Linked DNA regions of Homo sapiens: region 2 is linked to region 1. Evidence: fine-mapped expression QTL. A gene starts in region 1. The other region holds a variant in brackets. All regions are shown on one strand. Distances are from middle to middle. Region 1 holds the start of PCDH7 (protocadherin 7). Region 2 has its middle 160 kb from the start of LINC02497.

The links. PIP is the estimated chance that this variant, and not a neighbour inherited with it, causes the effect. A credible set is the group of variants that fine-mapping cannot tell apart.
Region 2: its variant is the best candidate, but not a certain one, in a credible set for the expression of PCDH7 in tibial nerve (GTEx, PIP 0.88).

What each region holds. Positions count from the first base shown.
Region 1 is chr4:30,714,343-30,725,698 of GRCh38, reverse strand. It overlaps PCDH7 (protocadherin 7), which reads right to left and starts at 5,330. Exons shown (of 3, transcript NM_001173523.2): 1 at 1,103-5,330. The coding sequence starts at 4,276. It overlaps LOC124900844, which reads left to right and starts at 6,578. Exons shown (of 1, transcript XM_047416545.1): 1 at 6,578-9,068. The coding sequence starts at 7,792. The coding sequence ends at 8,358. RefSeq lists an enhancer at 3,811-4,521.
Region 2 is chr4:31,325,879-31,337,234 of GRCh38, reverse strand. No RefSeq gene overlaps it. Among named protein-coding and RNA genes, the nearest start is that of LINC02497, 160 kb to the right of the region's middle. The variant G/A (reference allele first, on the strand shown) is at 5,241.

The DNA of each region.
Region 1 (11,356 bases):
TTCTTGAGATGGGTTCTGACAGTAAGAAATACGTAATGTTTTATTAGCTGAGGTTGCTGTACCATGAGACACAGTCCTTTCCAAAAGGTCTTGTTTGCTGTGTGGCAAACTTTGGTAGATATACAAAGTAAACTTTCTGAGGATGCTATATTACACGAGGAAAACTTTCAAAAATAAATTTCAGATTTGCTTAAGTTCCGCCTCAGAATATATGTATTTTTTACTGTTTCCACATTTCACTGAGAAACTATTATGTCAAATATTCCACATAATCTTTACATTCTCAATATATCATAATGCATACCAAAATAGTCTTGCACACAGTACATCAATCATGAATATTTTCATTACTTGGCTTAAATAATAAATGGCTCATGCAATGTATTTTTGTTTGCAAACTTTTAATACCAAACAGAAAGAATGCAAATGGTAATTGCATATCATTATAGAACACTAATTGTTATAGGTATCGATTATTATAGATATAAAAGATTGAAAGTGGAGTTTTGCATGACATTTGCATATCAGTAAATATTTTTAAACCAGCAGTTTCATCAAAGTAGTCAGTATTTCAATATCTCAGACTTAGTACTACATCTGCATGAATCAGCATCTATTTATCTGTAAAATCCTGCATTGTAAATAACATAGCTAAAACTTCTATGGAATCCAATTTGCATAGACACCAGTAGTAACTTTAGAAACTTTTTCTCTGGATGTAATTATCCACTTAGTTGCCACAGAAGAAAATAATTTCAGGTGAAAACTAACCATCTAAGTAATACACACATATTTATTCTGGAAACAAAAAAATGTAGTATGAATTAGGGATGTCAAGTGCAAAGAGAACTGCCAAACACTGCCTACTCTGAATACTTCTTTCAGTAGTTTAGTGAACCTTAATTCTAATTTGCAAAATACAGTGGTATACCTCTTGTAGATGGCCTTTGCTAAATTAATGGTGCAAAAATTAACATTAAATTCCTACTGTTAAAATTTTAATAACTTTAAAAACGAGAAGACAAAACTTTACAGAAGATAATCTGTCTCAGAGTTATTAGCCCTCCCTGGGATATTTAAATATATTTGGGATACATCTTACCTGTTTGCTGTACTTGTTATTGGTTTGACAGCTGTACTCAGAGCAGTGATCTGATCCAATTGAAATGTTGTCTCCTGCTCCCACAAATGTGTTGGCTGGTGGTAGATCTTGTACGGCCTGGTGTTTTTTTCCTGCAGTTGGTGACTGGGGATGAAGCTGAACAGTAGGCAATGGGGAACTAGATTTGTAATGCCTTGCCAGGTCAGGACTGCCGGGCCCACCATTAACGGACCTGTATCGCCCCATGCTTGGGCTGTCTGACAGCTTCTCATTGACACTATCATACCTCTGTCCATTTGGCTTAGAAGCCTCCACAGTGACAATGCTGCTGTAGAGAGGCTGCTTAGATTTTTTGTTTTTCTTGTCCTTTTTAGGCTTTTTAGATTTGTCATGCTGTTGGGGTGTAAAAAAGTCTTCGTGATCTTTTTTGCCGGCTTCATAGCCATTTTTATTTTTGGACCTGCAGTACCTTGCCATCACTACAATTAAGATGATTAGAATCACCGTCATAATGCCAGCAACCACGCCAATGACAATACTGAGTCTCTGTTTGCTAATTTCATAGCTTGGGTCACCAGCTATATCCTGGGTGAGTGGGATGTGCAAACTTCTAGCTATCTGGGAGTCAATCGCAGTTGCATTAGAAACACTTTCATTGACAAACACGTGCACCAGAGTCGTGGTGGACTGGGAAGGCTGCCCACTGTCATTCACTTGCACCACCAACCTGTGCAAGCCATAATGCTTTTGGGTGAGTTTTCCCACTAAGGAAACCACACCACTAGTGGGATCAATTTCAAACAGCTTGAAGGGATTTCCTCCCACAATGCTGTAGTTCAGGTCTGCATTGATGCCATCATCACTGTCTGTTGCCAACACTGTAGCTACTACTGTCCTGACATTACTCGAAGGTGGCAGTAAAGTGTAGGAAATGTTTTTGGGAAGGGTAACTGTGGGAGCATTGTCATTTTCATCCATCACAAAAAGCGAGACTGTAGCTGTGGCAGATCTGGGAGGATCTCCCCCATCCACAGCCTTGACTCTGAAAGTGTATGTGGTCTGATGTTCCCGGTCAAAAGACATTGTGGAGTAAATGGTCCCCGTGTCATTTTCAATAGAAAAAATGTTATTGTTCTCCTCTATGTACAGGCTCATCTCTGCATTCCGCCCCTTGTCAGCATCCATCACGGTGACCATCCCCACAGGGCTGTTGGGCTGCAAGTTTTCTTTCACATAAAAGGTGAAGACGTCCTGCATAAACTTAGGGTCATTGTCATTTTTATCAGCCACCTGCACAATCACCGTAGTGCTGCCCTGCAGCACGGGGATGCCTTTGTCTTTGGCGTTAACTTTAAACTCATACCTGTCAGTCTGCTCGCGGTCCAGCACGGTATTGACCAGGATGTCCCCAGAATCGGGATCGATGGCAAAGATCCCCATCACAGAGGAGTCCAGCGAGTAGGCGATCTCGGCGTTCTTACCGCTGTCTGCGTCTGTCGCCAGCACCGTGGCCACCCTCTCGCCCGGGATGTTGTTCTCAGGGAAGTAAACCTCCACCACCGACTGGCCGAACATGGGCGGGTTGTCGTTGGTGTCTCCCACCTTGACAATCAGGGAGTTGTTGCTCGAGAGGCTGGGGCTGCCTGAGTCCACCGCCACGATGACCACGTTGAACTCCCGGGTGGCCTCATAGTCCAGAGGGGTCGAGGTGTGCAAGAAGTACTTTTTCTTGTTCTGGTCGCCCTCGGTGTCGCTGGCTGGCTTGAGCTGGAAGGGCACGTCGCCCACCACGGTGCAGGTGACCACCCCGTTCTCGCCTTGGTCTCGGTCGGACACCTGCACCAGAGCGATGGGGGTGTCGACCAGAACGTCCTCGGCCACGTTGGCCACCCCGTCCTTGAGGGGGATGCGCCCAATCTTGCGGATTTCAATGGACGGCACGTTGTCGTTCTCGTCTTTGATGTTAAGGACCACGGTGGCCTTGTCGGTCTTGGGGGGCTGCCCGCGGTCGCGGGCCATGACCGTGAAGCGCAGCTGGTTCACCTCCTCGCGGTCGATCCGGTGCAGGACGCTGAGCCAGCCGGACGTCTCGTCAAGGCGCAGCAGCCGCCTCACCGACTCGGTGGCCGCCCCGAACACGTATTCGATCTGCCCGTTGACCCCCACGTCCAAGTCGGCTGCGCGCAGTTGCAGGATGGGGGTCCCCGGGGCGCTGTTCTCAGCCAAGTCGGCCTCGTACACGCTCTTCTCGAAGCGGGGGCTGTTGTCGTTCACGTCGGTGATGAGGACCCGTAGGATGGCCTGCGAGGAGCGAGGCGGGTCGCCGCCGTCGCGCACTCGCAGGGTCAGCTCGTAGGAGTCGCGCTGCTCGCGGTCCAGCGCCCCCTTCACGATCAGCTGCGGCTGCTTCTCGCCGTCCGGGGTGTCCGCCACCTGCAGCTCGAACACGCTGCTGCGGCCGCCGGGGTTGGTGCCGCCGCCGCCCTCTGATGCGTCCAGCCGCCGCTTGGAGCCTCCCGAGCCGCCGCCGCTCGCGCCGTTCCCGCCGCCCCCGGGGTAGGGGGCGCTGTCGGCCGCCCCGGCGCGCCGGCTCTCGCCGCCGCTGCCGCCGCCTCCGGGCTCCTGGAGCAGCTCGTAGCGCTCGATGCCGTTGCGGCCGAAGTCGCGGTCGGTGGCTGTGGGCAGCAGGTAAAGTGTGCCCACCGGCCGATTCTCCTCCACCGTGAGCGTGAGCACGGGCGACGGGAAGGTGGGCGTGTTGTCGTTGATGTCAAGCACGATGACCTGACCCTCAAACAGGTCCACCCAGCTCTGCGAGGGCCCGATCACCGACACCTCGAAGTCCAGGAAGCACTCGTTCTCGTCGAAGATCATCTGACACTGGGGCAGCTTCTCGCGGTCGATGCGCCGCTCGCTCGTGCTCAGCTCGCCAGTGAGGTTGTCGATCTTCAGGTACTCGGAACCGGACTCCAGGCTGAAAGTCACCTCACCCGATCCGGTCACGATGCCCAGGTCTGAAGCCACGTTGCCGATGCGGACGTCGGCGGGGCCCTCCTCGGCCAGCCGGTACCGGAGGAGCTGCTTGGCGGCCGCCAGGCTGAGCGAGAGCGGCAGGAGGAGGCAGCAGCCCAAGCACCAGCCGCGCGCCCATCCCGCGGTCCGCATCCTCAGCATCTTCTCCTGCTGCTGCTGCTACTGCTCCTTCTAACCACAGCCCCCTCGGCGCCCCCCTCCTCCGGGGCCGGCCGCCTGCCCTCCCCCGAGTCCTCTCCCCTCTCCCGGAAAGGAAGGAGCGAGAGGGAGGGGAGGGAGGGGGCAAAAGCGGCGTGGAGAGTTGGCCGGGAATGGGGGTGGGAGGGCAGCGATAGATGCTTCTTTTTTTCCTCCTGCTTCTTCCGAAAGTTATTGTTTCATAATTCATGCAATGGGTGCTAATCGCCCGCTCGCCTGCCGCCGTTCAGTCGCAGTACTCACAGTTCACGGGACACTGCGCGCCGCGGGTTCGGCGCTCCCCCAACCCAGAGTCATCCCCTCAGCGGGCGGAGAATCCCCGGCTCTAGTCCCCGCTCTGTCGGAAGGGGCCAGAACCGCTCCGGCAGACGGGCAGTGGGGCTGGGAAGAGGTGGGGAATGAGCCTGCAGCCTCCCCCGCCTGCCAGCCCGCTGGTCTTTGCTGCTACTCGAGTTGAGTCCAATTCACGTTCCAGGCACTCACTCCAAACCCAGGCTCTGCTCCGGCTCCGGCCACCCAGACAAACGTGAGTCGCTTCCTGCACCAGGCGCTGGGGCCAGCAACAAGCCAGTCTCAACTCCGACTCTGCTCATGCAGCGGGGGAGCCAGTCAACAGATCGAGAATGAAAAATCCCCCGGCACGTCGCTTCGGGCACGGTGCAGGGGAGACTACTCGCGTCACAGAGCGGTCAGTGTCAGGGTCCCCCCGGCGCGCCAAAGAGAAGCCCGAGCCATCTTCAGAGACGCCCAGAGTCAGTCCCTTCTCACCCCGGAGAGCGCGGGTTTCTCTTTTTTCTTAACAACTCTGCGCAAGGTCATTAGTCACGAAGCAGCCGCCTGAAACCGCAGCAGCCTTTCGCCCACGGGGGCGAAGGCTGAGCAGTGCGCACCGTGCGGTGCCCAAGTTTGGGTTCGCAGCCGCAGAGTCCGTGCCTTTTCTCACCTGCATTCGGCCCGCATGTCGGAGCAGTGGGATCTGCAGCGCTGTGCGCGATTCAGGGAGGAGATTGCAGCCTCTCTCTCCCCGCTCTCTCTCGATCCCTCCCCTCCCTCCCTCCCTTTCTCTCTCCTCCCTCCTCTCTCTCCTCCCTCCTCTCCTTTCCCCTTTCCCCCTCTCCCACTCGCTCTCTTGCACGCTCTCTCTCCTTCCCAATGCAGGGAACTCAAGCTGAACTTGATCCCTTTGCAGTTCAAAGGTGAGCAAACCAGGCTCGGAGCACAGGCGACGTTAGCCGGCGAAAGCGCACGGCCGGGCGTCCCCAACGGCAATTAACAAAGATGCCCAATTCTGTCTGGATTTCCGAAGAAAAGCCAAAGGCTTTCGGGCGGGGGTGGAGGGGGAGGTGGAGTCAGAGACAGCTGCCAAGTAGCTTAAAAAAAAAAATCCAGTTTGCCAAGGGGAGAAAAAGTGTCAGTCGGTTGTGGCCTCGGAAGTGCCCTGGCACGGCTGGTGAATTCCGCAGTTGTCTCGTCCCTTTTCGCGTCTGGGAGAGTCTGGTGCGGGCGCTCCCGCCGCCCCTCGGGCTGCAGCGGCTCGGAGACACTGAACCGCTAGTGGGAATCTCCCGTTCGCTACCCGCGAGCAGGAAACCCGCAAGTTGCCCAAAGTGGTGGTTGCTGCTGGGTGCTCGCTCGCTCACGGATCAGGCTTGTCCCTGACGCTGCTGCTGCAGCGGCGGCGGCAGTAGCAGCCGAGCCGCCGAAACTACACACTAGGAGAGAGCGAGGGAGGAGGGCCCGGGATAAGGAGGCGGGAGGGAGCGTCAGCCAGCCGCCGCGCTCGGGAAAGCCCAGCCTCAGCTCCAGGGGCCGCTCAAAGTGTGCCCAATCCCAGCCAGTCCTCTTTAAGCCAAAGCCCAGTCCCCCTCCCTAGCGAGTACCGCCGTCTTCTCTGGGGGACTTGTTTTCCCTCCCTCGGGCTGGTAAATTTCCTCCTCCCTTGACTAATGCCCAGTTCACGCGTGAGAGCTTTCGGAGCTGGTGTCAGGATAGGTTTCTCCTTCTCCCTCCCTCTCAGACGACGTCCTCCTCCCCCCGGAAAGTGTCTCCGGTTCGCGATTTAGGATCTTGGTTAGGACATGGTTATCGGGGTCCTGGGGAACCTACGAGCGCCCAGAAAGCCACTCTGTTCTGAAAAACCATGACGGGCTGCAGTAGTGAAGAGAGAACATCAAACTCCAGAGAGCTGGAGAAAGATCCTTTTTTGGGAGCTCAGACTTTGGATGGTTGCGGGGGGCAGGGGCGGCGGTGGGTGGAGGGTGAAGGATGTCTGTCTTTGTTTAAATGCTTGACATTCCTGTCGTCGTGCTTGCTTGCGGGGGTAGACCGTGTGTGCGCGCCTGGGGAATAAACACATGTTGGAAACCTCGATATTATTTTCTGAGCAGAAACCTGCAGCCTTTAGTAACTGGCAAAGTGTAGCGTCACCTATCTGGATAAAAGGGAAATAAACTTTAATGGCAACTTTGTGTACCAAAGTGTCCCCAGCTTTCCCATCTCTCCTTTTGACTTTGTGTCCCTTGACTGTCCCTATTTCCTGAAGCAAGGCTTCTCCAATTTTCATTCACGACCACCGCAGCCGGCCTCATCAGATCTCAGGTCTGGTTGTGTTTTTGAACTGAGCCATTTACTCATTTATTTCAGTGGCTGTAAACGAAGAGGCCCGGCTAGGATTAAGACGACTGAGACGGACTGTAGGTATTTGGGGAGAATTTTTACCATCTCGAAAGAGAGAAAGGGCCGCTGCTGGGATTTGCTTAGTCTTCAGCTCGCCTGACGTATCCATACACATTTAAGGGCCTCCCCTCAAAGAAAAATTTAAAGCCGAAAAAATAAAATCTGTCCAGTGTGGGTATTCTTTACGAGACCTGGGTGACGAGGCAGAATGATTTAAACAAGACAAACACCAATAAAGTCAACGAGCAGATGTAGCGCGCGGTTGTTTGGGCGGGCGCAGGAACAGGAATGAGGAGGGAGAGGCGGCAGAGATTTCCAAGCTCTCCCTACAGGGGATCGTAGATGCCCGTTGGATGGAAGTGTGTCTAAGTGTGTGTCAGGGAGCTGGCGAGTATTTTCCAGTCTGTGAAAGTAGCATCACCCCAGGGGTGGTGGCTCCTCCTCCGAGGCCAGGGCAGGGAACCCGGCCTTCCCGCTAACCCTCCCGCTGCTGGCACCCGAACCTCTCAGCTCTGTATCTGCAGCATCAGCGAGAAAAGCCCCGCGCGCAGGCTCAGTGCGCACCGCCGCAGTCTCGAGCCGGGGGCGGGGGTGGGCTCCGCAGCGCCTTCGCGGCCGGCTAAGTGGCAGTAAAGCCAAATCCCTCTTACATTTGGCAAGAACCCGGGTTTATCGGAACGCCTGCCTCTCTCCAAACCTCCGACCCTGGTTCCCCTTTTTCCCAGGTTGGAGGCAAATGGGAGAAGCCGTCTCCACTCCGCGGCCTTGCGCCGTGCATTCCGATGCGCGGCAATATGGTGCAGTGCACTCACTCCCCTCATCGCCTTACTAAGATTTTGCAAACTTCAGGCAGCCGCTTGGGCAGAAACGTTGTGCACTCCCTCTTCCCTCTCCAGACCATAAACTTGAATAAGCCTCTCCGCATCTTCAAAGCATTTGCTCGCGGCTCTGGCGCGCACTCTCCAGGCGCACACTTGAGCGGGGCGCGAAGGAGTGGGCGGCTTTTCCTCAGCGCGCTGCACATTTCTTCCCGGATGACTAGGGAGTTGCAGCGCGTCCTTCACAGTGGAGTGGTTTCCTCTTTGCGAGCGGGAGGAAGTCTCCAGCCCGCCCTCCTCACTCTCATTCCTACCAACTTCGCGGCGGAGCCAAGCCAGCGTGGGAAATGGGTCCGACGTGTGCTGCATGGAGAACAGCGAGGACAGACTGCGGGGGCCAAGAAGCCTGCTGGCTTTGCTCCCACCCCCATCAGTCCCAGGCTCCGACCTTTCTGCCAGAGCAGCAAAGAAGTGGCGGCGGCTTTGCCCTGCAGCGCCGTTCTGGGCAAGCAAAGGAAATGGGCGGGGTAGGGGTACGGGGGAGGTGAGAGGAGCCCTCGGGGCGCCCTTGCGGCGGCTGGAGCTCCCAGTCCTCTTCCGCCCCCTCTCTAGGGGCTGACACTCTCTCCTCTCGCCGGCGCAGAGGATGAATGAAGAGAGAAGCAGTTTCTCCCACCCCCGCCCCATTTCCGCAGTCTTAGAGCCAGTGTCACAAGTGCTCAGCAATTTCATTAAATGGAACCGGGAGACTTAATCCCCCCCGGTACCAGACCTCACCGAGGGAATGTGATATCCGGCTTCGCTCCCACCCACCAACCCCCCCCCCCCCCCCCCCCCGGCTTCTCAGACCCGAGGCTGCATTTATCTACTCAACCTGAGAGGAAAGGGTTCAGAAGGAAATGGGATCGAAAGTGTAACCGCCTGCAATAAATTAAAGAGCCTGCTGCTGCTGCTGCTGCTGCTGCTGCTGCTGCTGCTTTGGCGGCCAGAACTGGAGAGAGAAAATGAGATCAGTGCCCTAAAGCTTGCATCGATCAGAGTGATTAGACGTCATCGCATGTAGGAAGCAAAATGTTTGAGGGAATGTTGAAATGGAGATTTCTGTTTTTTCTTTAGTGGCTTTTTAAAAAAGAACAATAAAAGGAAATACCCCTTTGAAATCAAGATGTAAAAAATGAAATTGATTAAAATATAAATATCATCCCGTGCTAATATGCATTTAATAAAACCTTGACAAACGATTCATTTTCTGTGCCAGAAATCTTACCCTAAACTTAAAATATTCAGTAGATTTTTTTTTTTTAATTTACCTACTAACCTCGCTTGCTTAAACCTGTTTTGCCGTTAAGAAATTTCAGTGGCTGAACTGAAAAATAGCATTCAGGGTCCCTGATGTAGTTCAAGCCTCAAGAAAAGACAGTAAGAGAAGTAACTACAACAAAAGTTTATGGTTAAGAATACAAAGTAGATGCTGGAGATGTGATCTCAGGGGGCCTTTCATTTATAATAGACGCTGTATTCACAATAATATGAGAAAAAGGTTAAATACAGTAAACACGATAGCCAGTTCTGGAAAGATAAAAACAGTTTGACAGAAAAGGAGAAAGTAACTCAAGAACTCCACCAAGGGACAAACAGAGGAAATGACACTCGGATATCTCTAAATCCATTGACCTTTCATCTTTTTAAAAAGGGTCTTCTATCTGTAGACGTGTTTTCTAGGCCTTTATGATCAACCATTTCTCTAACCCCTTTCGCTAAATTTGATACTTCAGTCTTCCTTTTCTAAATAATTACTACAAACGATTGTCCTTTAAACATATATTACTTGAAAGAGTAAACATATCTGTGCATAACTATTCCAAGTATGATTCTGATCCTTGAGACTCTGAGAAACTTTAGATATATTTTACAGCCTTAAATCCATGCTTGTAGTATTAACATGTTTAGTAGACTGAAATGACTAAATTATTCATTGCAATAACAGCCTTTTTGATAGACATTAAAACTCATCAGTTTAAATAAGGAAACCACAGATTTCCTTTTAAGCAGGTAATAACTGCTTGCATCAGTGGTTATTTAATTGGTTTCTAGCCAAGACATAGAATAAGTTGTGCTGTTTAAATCAAGAAATCATATGCAAAGCTATATTTTACAGTGTATCTATAAAAGAAGCACACAGAAACTAAACTAAGTTGATTCATACTATCTACTGGATAACTATAAACATTTCCACAAGGCCGATATGAAAATCTCATTTACAAAAAAAAAAAAAAAAAGAAGAAGCTTTGAAAAATAAAATTTTAAGTGTTTATTAGCTCACACGCTGTCTGGTTTTCAGATTTCAATAGAGTGTTTTAGGTTTTAAAATAACACAGAATAAATGATTTTTACCTTAAGTTTAGCACATATTGACAGTTGATTTTTTATTCATTTTCTAAAGGTTTACATGCCAAAATATGTGCAATATAGCAGAGATTTACAAGTCATGACACACATAAAAAGATCCAGTCAGTGACTATAACTGGCATTTGTCTTTTACTTACAAGATCATTAGTTTATGAATTTTTTCAACTTTACATTAATTTTCATACATTTACAAAAATGTAAGTTGGGGGCACACAGTATTTTATAAAATCTGGATTACTTCTGGGAAAAAGACCCTTGATAGGTTAAAAGCAGTACATCCTATTATTTAGGGTCATCTGAAGCTATCTCCTTTCACTATTGATGGTAAAATTAGACCTACCAATGCCCTTTGCAGTACGAACTTGGGAGATTTGCATATTTTTACTATCGTGGCAGGATATATCAAATACTGCTGTGGATAATGACCTCTAAGCTAGATAACATGTTAAGGATTTGGGGGAGAAATTTCATTATAATTGCTTGGACAAATTTAATTCCCAAACAAATGACCTTGCTTATAACAAGAATGGTTGAAAATTATGTATTAGCTTTAGAAGTTTTAGCACCTGGCTGTGTCGACCTAGCTAGGCCACTTCTTATGTTCATTCTGAATAACAGGCGGTAGAAAACTTTATTCAAACAAATTTGATTGATTGTAATTAGGAAATACATAATGTGGGATGTTTCTAGAATGAGAAATATAAGAAATTTGACTATTTCAGCAGCAATGAATTTTCTAACGACAGATGCTGATACTTATAGGGCAGTCATTGAGAACTTTCCCCAAGTATTTCTGACTGTGGCTTCTGGGCCTAACATGGAATTGTACCTCTTGGCCCCCTTGTGGCTAGATGAGGCCATTAACCAGTTCCGGGCAGCCCTAAGTGGAAGAGGAATTTCACTTCCCTGGGAAATACGGGTGCTGGTATGTAGTCATTGTTCAACTCTGTATAAGTCAGACTGGTTGTGAATTTGACTTAGGACCAATACTTGAAGAATTCAGTAAACTTCAGGCTGACATTGATTTGGGAAAGTGGTAGTACCTTTTCGATACCCATTTCAGTGCTTTTAAAATAAATCATCCATGTAAAGCTGAATTAAGAAGCATATCAAAGTAGAT
Region 2 (11,356 bases), 610 kb before region 1:
ATTATTTCTAAATAATTGGATTCAGCTAAATTTAATATAATTAGAAACATCCCGATAGATATTTGTTATTAATTATTCATTGGAGTATTTATCAGCTCCAAATGGAAAGAAACTATTTGATTATTTGTATTTTCAAAAATGTTGAGAGTACTTTATATATGCTCAATGCCTATTATGTGCTACCATTACATTTGCTTTACAGTTATCTCAGTAAAAACAAATGCTGGTTTGGATTAAAATATCAATTGTTTTCTATTTAAGAATGAAATTCATGTCAGAAGAACTCAGTTAAGGAAGTCTACAATTTCCTTTGTAACAATATTTGTACCTTGTGCCATTACTTGATAAACTTCTTTTATCTCAGATGCCATGCATAGTTCTGAGAATGCAGAAGTAAAAGATAATTCAAAATCTATGGTGGTGTTAGTCTATTAGGAGAAATATTCATAGATGGTGGAAATATAGGAAGTATATTTGGAATGATGTTTCAGACATGGGACACCATGTGCTGGGACACCTTAAAGAGAATGAAATAATGAATTCGACAGTCATGGTAACCAACGTATATTGAGAATACATGGCGCATGTGGAGGATATTGCTGAGGGACTGAAATCAGACAGTCCACCATGGTTACATTTTCTGATCTGTATTTTTTATATATACAATTTAGTATAGTATGGCTATGTGTCCCTGCCCAAATCACATGCTGAGTTGTAGTCCCCAGTGTTGGATGTGAGGCCTGGTGGGAGGTGATTGGATTAAGGGGGTGGATTTCTCATGGGTTAGCACCATCCCCTCGGCGCTATTCTCATGGTAGTGAGTTCTCATGAGATCTGGTTGTTTAAAAGTGTACGGCAGCTCCCCCTCCATGCTCTCTTGCTCCTGTTTTTGCCATGTGACATGCCTGTTCCCTTTCCACCTTTCAGCATTATAAACTTCCTGAAGCCTCCCCAGAAGCTGAGCGGATGTTGGCATTACGCTTCCTGTACAGCCTGAAGAACCATGAGCCAATTAAACCTATTTTCTTTATAAATTACCCAGCCTCAGGTATTTCTTTATAACAATGCAAGAATGGCCTAAAACACAATGATAAACCAAAAAATAAAATTCTAAGCCCATAAACCTACTGAATGGACCCCTCTTTTGCCAAGGGCATTTCAAAGATAACCTGAAAAGCTAGTTCAGGCCCTGTGGGAATAGGTGTCCCCTTGCCCCCGCAGCCCCCCGCACCTCCCCACCAACATGCCTCATTATAACCTCCTCCCTTTGGAATGCAGGCACAACCGACCAGCATTAACATTAAAACAGAGACCTTAAAACTGACAGTGGTGTCTTTGTATCAAAAAAATATCAGCATGACAGATAGCAGGCCCTAAAAAACATGGAAATATTTTATCTCAAAGTATATTTATTTGACATATTTTGAAATGGTATTGCAAAACTGTCTTTTGCAGGGAAAATGTACATTCTGCACAGAATCCTTTTCCTCTTCCAGGTCTTTTCTGTGATCCAGGAGGAGAATTAACTAAGAGTCTGACACCTTTATAAGTCTAAAAAGAAACATTTATAATCTATTCTCTCTGAGGCCTGCCACCTGGATGCTTTATCTGTATAAAAAGAACCTTGGTCTCCACAACTCCTTGTCTTAACCCAGACGCTCCCTTTCATTGATTCCAGGTCTTTAAGTGATAATTGTTCTCTTTCAACCAATTGCCAATCAGAAAATCTTTGAATCCACCTATAACCTAGAAACCTCCCCAAACTGCCACCCCACTCCCAACCTGATATATAACTTACATGTATTGATTGATGTCTTATGTCTCCCTAAAGTGTGTAAAACCATGCTGCAGCCTGACCACCTTGGGCACATATTCTAAGGGCTTCTTGAGACTGTGCCTTGGGCCATGGTCACTCATATTTGGCTCGAAATAAATCTCTTCAAATATTTTACAGAGTTTGATTCTTTTTGTTGACACAATTTTGTATCTGGAAAAAAGAAACAAAAATGTTTTTTATGGAAATTGAATGATCTTATTCGTAAAATGACTAATATATAATATCCAATCCAAAATATGGTAGCTTTTTTTATTAGCAGTGTTGACCTCATAAAACATGATCTAGTGGATATACAATTTCTGGCACATAGGGAATGCTCACACATGCTCTGTCTCTTTACTTTCATGTCACTTCTATCAACTACTCTTTAAACTCATCATATGTCAATCACTTATTCCTGTTTCTGATACATCACATACACCTGAATATTGGTAGGTAGCTTTATAAATGCACACACAGAAATCTGTATCTTTTCAACCACCAAGCATTTTAAGTACCTCTTTTGATGATGTTCAAAACCCTTAGTGAAGTGATTTCTACATAATACTATTACTTCTAACTGGTTACATAACAAAATATGTGGCCAAATTACTAATATAAATAAAAAAAAAATTCAGCGGTATAAAAAACCCTTTGGGAATGTAAACATTGGTTTGGGAATTGGAAGATGTAGGTTTTAGAGCTAGCTATAATACTAATTACTGCAATATGTTTTAAAAAGCTCTTAAAGTTCACCATTATAAAATAAACAAGTTAAATTAAAAGATTCGTGAGGCCCCTTTTGGCTCAAATATTTCAAAATTGTGGACATTTATACTCTGAGTCATATACAAACAAATATCACCAAAAGAAATTATAGAAGATACTGTTAAATCACTGGTATCTAAGCAATGAATTTGGTGAAACTTTTAATTGTCTTGGGATTATAGTATCAATAAAAAGAAATAAATGTGTCATGACATTTTGGGGCATATAAATACTTGGATGTCTGAATAATGTAAGCTAAAAACCCAAAATCATCTCTCTCTCTCTTTGTCCTTATAAGGCAAGCCTCTTAAATATCAGAGCCCTCTAGTAAAGTCTGCAAAGTCAACAATCCATTCTTGGGACAAATGTTTGAGGTATGAGCTATGGCCTGAGATTCTATTTAGGAGAAAAGAGGTGAAATGATCCTGAATGCCTGGGGTCACTATTTACTTTCCCATAGTCAACAATCAGATAAATCTAGATTCCATCACAAGTAGAGATTGACTAGCTGTTCTATAGGTACTTCCTTTCTTTCAAACATTGATAGTACATTTCTTCACATGCAGTTTAACTTGTGCCTCTCTGGGTAGGAGTTTCTTCCTAAGGGAAGTAGTTGATTTACTCAGCAGTTGCGTTTTTCTTGGAGTACCAAATCATGGTTTGTAGTTCCAAAAAGTGGCTATTCTCCCAAGTGTCCCTCTATTGTCACAGCCTGTCCTGACATTTGATACCAAATGTGATGTGTAGGTTGGGCGTGTAGGTTTATTAATAAAATCTGTCTAATAACCAAATGTGGCAACAGTCACTTGTCTTAGTCTCAAATACTTGGAACAGTTGTTCCCAAGAACTGGAAATATTTCTACATTTCTAAGGAAATTTTTTTAGGTTTCTAAATCAAGACATTTGTTTCCAGAGCATAGAAAACTATATCTCCCAAATGCCACCAGAATAATACGTATAATTTGTTTTGAAACAAAGTATTAGTTACGTTTTTATCACCAATAGCAATAGATACATAACATTAACTGAAGTACTGTTGACTTCTTTGCAGATTTTTAAACTATAATAAAGACTAATTAACAAATGAGAATCAAAGATTTATATGCTTTACAATATTATGCCAAAATCGTTTTTTTAACAAGATTCTGTCTGTCCAATGACAAACATTTTAGTGAAACTGTATATAAACTTAGTTATCCAACTACTTTAGCTACTTGATGCTATACTAGAATTTCTTTTATCATGGATGCTAAATCATATATTTAAACTGATTAAAAGTTAAGAAAGATATATCCTTCTATCTCTCATTAAGATGTTTAAATTTAATGTAGTAGTTCTCAAAAGTAAGTCATTTACATATTATGCTTATGTTTTTGTGCCTTATTTGTTTACCAGCTTTACTATTTATTTTTATATTGCTTTTCTTTTTGTGATTAATAAATGATTTAAAAAGAACATTTTTATGATCATTGTAATAATTAATACCATTATGTCAGAATATTATTTAATATTAAAAAATTTTTAAATCAACCAAAAAAATTAGCCATTAATTTAATCAATGTAATAATTGCATGCCTAATAATTAATTTTTCAAACAGAATAACATGTTTATTATCACCAAATAATAGATTTTGAATCTTTGAAACTTAATTAACATTAATATGAAGCTTAATATAGTAGAACAATTCCATTGCTTTTAATATTAGCCTATTAATGATAATCTCAACTGAAAATGTACATATTTGGAAATTGGAAGCACCGAGTTCTTTTGTATTAATTTATGGTATAGATAATTCATTATTAGTGAAAATAAGATAAATGACTTTGCATAAGAAAATTTCCTTTAAAAAAAATCTGAGGTGTTCTCTAAATTTTGTTCTTCTGAATGTGTCAAGTAATCTGGTAATGTGTGAAATACCAGGGAACAAGAGCATGTCTCAGCAATACAGAAGTGGTGTTCATCCGGGAAATTATGTGTGAAGGCCACTTACTTTTGTTATCCTTCAATGATGTCTTTATAATGGTCAAAATACTTTTCAACAACTATTTTTAAATAAGTTAATAACTAAGTCATTCTGACACGTAAAATAATCTAACATGCCATGATCATGGCTTGATGACTGATGCTCCAATTTTGTCATTAATTAATTTACTCTTTCACTTGGAAAACTGATACAAATGAATTTTGTAAGGTTGTCCAATTGTGCTGACAGCTCTGAAAAATATCCTGATATAAAAGGCAGTCCCTAGTGATGCATACATCACAACGTATTAAAGGTTTTAGCCAGAAAACGAAAGTTGTTATTTTGCCTCAAATAGAAAAGGATGGATTTTGCAGCATTTAAAAAAAATAGATTTCACTACAAAACTATGTTTCTCGTAATTTCCCATTTCTAGATAAATATTAGAAAATATTTCAAGAGTTCAATGGCCTCTCTTTACTATGATTGATATATTTTTACAACTTTAAGTACGCTTTTCTTGCATGTCTGGGTGGTGTGGGGTAGAGGATGGTGGGTGTAGGATACCAGGACATTACTTCCTGTGATACGGTTTGACTATGTGGAACAAGCCCTCATTGTGCATCAACTGTGAATGTAGTGCCTTTCATGCTTATCCCAATAAGTCACTTCCAGATTATGTCATGAACTTATCA[G/A]TAGGTTTTTTTGTTTTGTTTTGTTTTTTTGAGACAGAGTCGTGCTCTTGTTGCCCAGGCTGGAGTGCAATGGCGCGATCTCGGCTAGATGCAATCTCCGCCTCCCAGGTTCAAGCGATTCTCCTGCCTCAGCCTGCTGATTAGCTAGGATTACAGGCACCAGCCACCACGCCCAGTTAATTTTTGTATTTTTAGTAGAGATGGGGTTTCACCACGTTGGCCAGGCTGTTCTCGAACTCCTGACCTCAGGTGATCCACCCACGTTGGCCTCCCAAAGTGCTGGGATTACACGCGTGAGCCACCACGCCCCGCCATCAGTAAGTTTTAAAATCCCTACTCCAGTTGTACTCATTGGCAAAGACTGGCAGAACAAAAGGTCTCCATGGTCTCAGTGTTTAGCACGTACATAACACACACTTAATACTAAGAGAACATCAGAGGATTAACTGACAGTGAATAGAATACATTTTACTATAGTCATGAAAATATTTACTGCCTTCAGTTTGGGGCTATATTTGTAATTTTATAGTACACTATTTCTTTTGACAGAAGCACCTTACCAGTTCCTTTGCTTGTATTGACCCAATTTATTATTTAAAACGTCTTCGCAGCATATTTAGTGTTTATTTACTATGACTCCAGAAACTATAAGCTTCACAAGTTAATAAAATATAATAAATAAATATTCTTATATTTTTATTGAATTGGAATGCTAAAAAATTTCTAAAATTCTGGGATATCATTTTCTTTTTCTTTTCTTCTTTGGAAGTTTTACAACAGTCTTTGAGGTCAGACACTATAATATCAAATTGTGTGTCTGTGAGTGTGGGTCATTTCAGAATGTAGAAGCATGTCTAAACCTAAAGGAATTAGTTTGCTTTTGTTTATGACTTCATGAAAATTTTGATTTCAAATGCTTTTTCATAATATTTTGAATATTTGCTTTGCAGCTGATACTTTTACAATATTAACAGAAAACTAAGATTATCAATTAACGTGTCTCTTTGAAGACATAAAGATTTAATCACAATCAAACCTGACAATGCTAATAGTAGTAGGAGTAGCAGCTACAATTTAATATGTATACTATATGTCTGATATTATTCTGAATATGTTAATTCCATTGAAGTTTTTTAGCACTCATGATATATTTAAGTAACTTCCACTTGTATGCATTAACAGTCCTGTTTTAAAAAAAAATATTATCCAAAACAGGTTCAATAAAGAACAAATTAACACAAAAAGATAAAAACTTATGTGTATTTGTTACATACATGTTTTATTATAAGTTTTGTTATACAGATACTCCTTGACTTACAATGGGATTATGTCTTGACAAACTTATCATAAGTCAAAAATATTGTAAGTTGAAAATGCTTTTAGTACCCCAACAAACCCATTGTAAAGTTAAAAAACTGTAAGTCAAACCACCATTAAGTCAGCACCATCTATATATATGTATCTGTGTATATGAATGTGTACATACATGCATAGTATATTAATATATTAATTATATATTAATTATTATTATATATTATATTAATATATATTAATTAGATATAAAATATATTTTAATTATATTAATATATATGATGTGCGTGTATTGCTATAGTCTGAATGTTTGTGTCCCCTCCAAAATTTATATGTCAAAACCCAGTTCCCAATGCAATAGTATTAGGAGATGCAGACTTTAGGAGATGATTGGCTCATGAGGGCTGAGACCTCATCAATGAAATTTGTGCCCTTATAAAAGAGTCCTCAAGCCTCTTCTGCCCTGTGAGGATGCATAGAGAAGATGCCTCTTATGAAACAGAAAACAATTCTTACCAGACACTGAATATGTCAGCGCCTTGATCTTGGACTTCCCAGCCTCCAGAACTGTTTGAAATAAATTTTAGTTGTTTATAAGCAACCCAGTTTATGGTATGTTCTTATAACAGCCCAGATGAACTAAGGGGTGTGTGCGTGTGTGTGTGTGTGTGTGTGTGTGTGTGTGTCTTGAAAACAGCACACATACTTATTTTGTTTATACATATTTAGCAGGCTTAATATTAACTTCCTGAAGTGGAGTTCCAATACTCTGAAGAAAAAACTAAGATAAAATACATGTCAGTTAAGTATATGAAATCCCATGCCTCCAGTTTATATGATCCTACTATCTATACTTATAAACTACGATGATAACACTTTCAGTTTTGTCGGTTCAACCCCTTCATTGGTTTTCTGAGCGCCACATCTGTAATTCACTTGATCATCCTAAGGCAGATTACTATGCCACTGCTTACTGGAGCATCATCCTAAACCAGCAAAACCAAGCAATATTCTATGTTTAGTGTGTTGGTTATATTTTTCTAATGTGCATGGAAGCAAATACCCAAATACTAGAATAATTACTACATACCTACCAGATTAAGCTTTCATAAAATTAAGATTTCATATAGGTAATTTCACAAATTACCTATAAAATTATGGTAATAATTAGAGGTACTCTTTTTGAGCTGAGAGAATATAATATTTTCACTTCATCTATCCTTATCACTTGGTATGTCAACAGTGCCTTTGGTTGTTGTTAATGCTCGCGTTATCCCCTTGAGAATAAGAAAATGATGGGGATCGGGGGGGTAGGATTGCAAGAGAAGGAACTACAGAAAAGCTCAAAGTTACATTGCAGAAAGACTCTGTAAAAAAAAAAATACACAAATAAGAATATATGGATATTGCAGCTGTTAGTACCAGAACTGATGACTGTACATAAAACATTGAAGCAAGTGAATATTTTATTCTCTCCTCTCTGACTTTCTAAAATGATACAGAAGCTTGCATGTTCTGGGCACTATTCCCAGAAGTATTGCATTTTCTCCCCAAATCCACAGATGCTCTTCTGGGAACGAGGTGGCAGCACTGACAACACAAATGAGCTGACAGTGTGCAACCATTCCTGGAAGCACTGCCTTCTGGAGATGAGACTTTCAAGAAAAAAACACTAAATTTAATTCAATAAAAAAACACCCACTAAATTTTAATTCCATTCTGTTCTTCACATATCCTACATATTTTAAAAATTCACAGATTACTATTAGGTGAGAGGGAAAAGCTAGTTGCGGTTCTTTGGAGAAATTGCTAATATATTTTTTGAAACTGGAGACATGATGGTTTGAGTTACTGAAGACTGGAGTTTCTGAGGCACCATACAAATAAAAACTGGAAAGAGTCATTTAACCACCAACAGATCCATTTTATTACCCTTTGCAGGAGCATACCACACTGCAAAGTGCTTACTTTAAAACTAAAACAGTTATTGATAATACAGAAAATACAGTCCTTTGTTATCATAACTTGTATTTTGTAGTGATTTTATCTCAGATTCATAGGTTAATAATTTTTCAAAGTAATCTTAGTATTTATGGACCAACTTTTTCATTTTATAAATCCTTAGAGATAAAGTGACTTACTCAGGATAAGCCAGCCATGACACAAATGGAACTCTCCCAAATTCAAAGGCAATATTTCACTTTTATCAATTTCTAAAGGCCAGGCATAGTGGCTCACACCTTTAATCCCAACACTTTGGGAGGCCTGGGCTCAAGGATCACCTGAGCCCAGGAGTTCAAGACCAGCCTGCACAACATAGTGAGACCTCATCTCTACTAGAAATAAAACAATTAGCCGGTGTGGTGGTGCACACCTGTAGTCCCAGTTGCTTGGGAGGCTGAGCTGGGAGGATCACTTGAGCCCAGGAGGTCAAGGCTACATTGAGCTATGATTGTGCCTCTGCAGTCCAGATTTGAAGACAGAATAAGACCCTCTCAAGAAAGAATGAGAGAGAGAGAGAGAGAGAGAGAGAGAGAGAAAGAATTTCCAAAGAGTTTCAAATTTGTCTCATCTGAGAAATCTAGAGACCCTGCAGAGGTATTATTATTCTTTTTTTCAAATAAGAAAATGGAAGCCCAAACCATTTAAAGAAATTGCTTTACAACATATATTTAGTAGGATAACAAAACTTAAACCCACAATACAAGATTCTCTCTATATGATAAATACAATTGACCCTTGAGCAACACAGGGGTTGGGGCACTGATTCCCTGTGGCTAAAAATCCACATATAACTTTTGACTCCCCCAAAACTTAACTACTAATGCCCTGCTGTTGATCAGAAACCTTACCAATAATATAAACAGTCGATTAACACATATTTTGTATGTATTATATGTCATATCCTGTGTTCTCATAATAAAGTAAGCCATAGAAAAGAAAATGTTAGCAAGAAAATTATAAGGAAGAGAAAATACATTTACTATACTATACTGCATTTATCGATACTGTAAATTTACATCATTTGTTTACAAGATGAATTGTCTGAAATGGGGCAACCTCAGCTGCAGATCTCAATGTATGGTGTATATCGAATGATTCAACTTTTTCTTGTTATGTCATGACATTTTTCTGCTTCCTGAGAGCACTCCCAGCATCACTAGTGGCACTTCGTGCTGGTCCCATGGTGTTATTCAAAGTTTATGATACTGCACTAAACATGGTGAAAAACAAACAATAGGCCAGCACGGTGGCTCACACCTATAATCCCAGCACTTTGGGAGGCCGAGCTGAGTCAGGTGGATCATGAGGTCAGGAGTTCAAGAACAGTGTGACCAATATGGTGAAACCCCGTCTCTAATAAAAATACAAAAATTAGCCCGATGTGGTGGCAGGTGCCTGTAATCCCAGCTGCTCCGGAAGCTGAGGCAGGAGAATTGCTTGAACCTAGGTGGCAGAGGTTACAGTGAGCCGAGATCATGCTACTGCACTCCAGCCTGGGTGACAGAGTGAGACCCTGTCTCCACACACACAAAAAAAATAATAAATAAATAAAAAATAAACCCTAGAGATTACTTTTTACTGCAATAAATAATTTACTGGAAAGGAACTTCTCACGTGGAGCTGATTAGCACCATACACACCACACTGTTTTAAGTAGATACTCGCAATACTTGAGCTCACCACACCAGCAACCAGAGGTGGGTACAAAATTTTTATAGTAGTACAGTATAGACTACAGTTAATTTTATGCAGTTATAATTGTATACTGCATGGTTACATTTGTTTACATTTCTCTCAGCTGTAAATGGTACCATGTGCAATCTGTAAATGTGTGTGTAGATTTTGATAAAATTTAACTTTTTATAGTATATTTGTGTACCACATTCTTTTGTAGTAAATGATAAAATCAACTAGTATCTACATATATTTTATGAATTCATGACATATCTGAATTTTTCTTATTCTTTTGATATGTCTAGCCTACTCAGTTCATCTGCAAGTATTTTTCAAATTGTTATAATTCTGAAAAAATTTCAAAATATATTCATTTTTTAAAAATATGTGTATAAGGGGACCCATGTAGTTTAAACTCTTGTTTTATTGTCAACTATATTTACTCTTAAAGTAGAAAATTATTTTTCCTAATATTTTCTACCTAATATTTTTGTCAAGTTACATGAAAGGAAGTTCTCTGATGTTGTTTGGATGTGTCCCCACCCAAATCTCATTTTGAATTTGCACCTGTTGTGGGAGGAACCTGGTGGAAGGTAATTGAATCATGGGGGCAAGTCTTTCCCATGCTGTTCTCGTAATAGTGAATAAGTCTCACGAGATCTGATGGTTCTATAAGGGTGTGTTTCCCTGCACAAGCTATCTCTCTCTTTGCCCGACACCATCCCCGTAAGATGTGACTTGCTCCTCTTTGCCTTCTGCCATGATTGTGAGGCCTCCCCAGCCATGTGGAACTTTAAGTCCAATAATCTTCTTTCTTTTGTAAATTGCCCAGTCTTGGGTATGTCTTTATTAGCAGCCTGAAAACAGACTAATATACTCTCTTTACTATGTATACAGCAGTAACTTTTATATTTTAAATGCAAGACGGACTCAATCACAGTTCTTCTGGAACAAAATTAATTAAACAGCTACCCATCAGTTAACATAGAATAGCAGAGAAGGAAGTTTTCTGATACAGAAAGTTTTTATTTTAGATGTGTAAGAAATAAATGCATTATTTTCAATATAAATATCAATCAAATGCCCTCTGATGTTTATATTAGTGGGACCATTTGTGATGCAAGGAA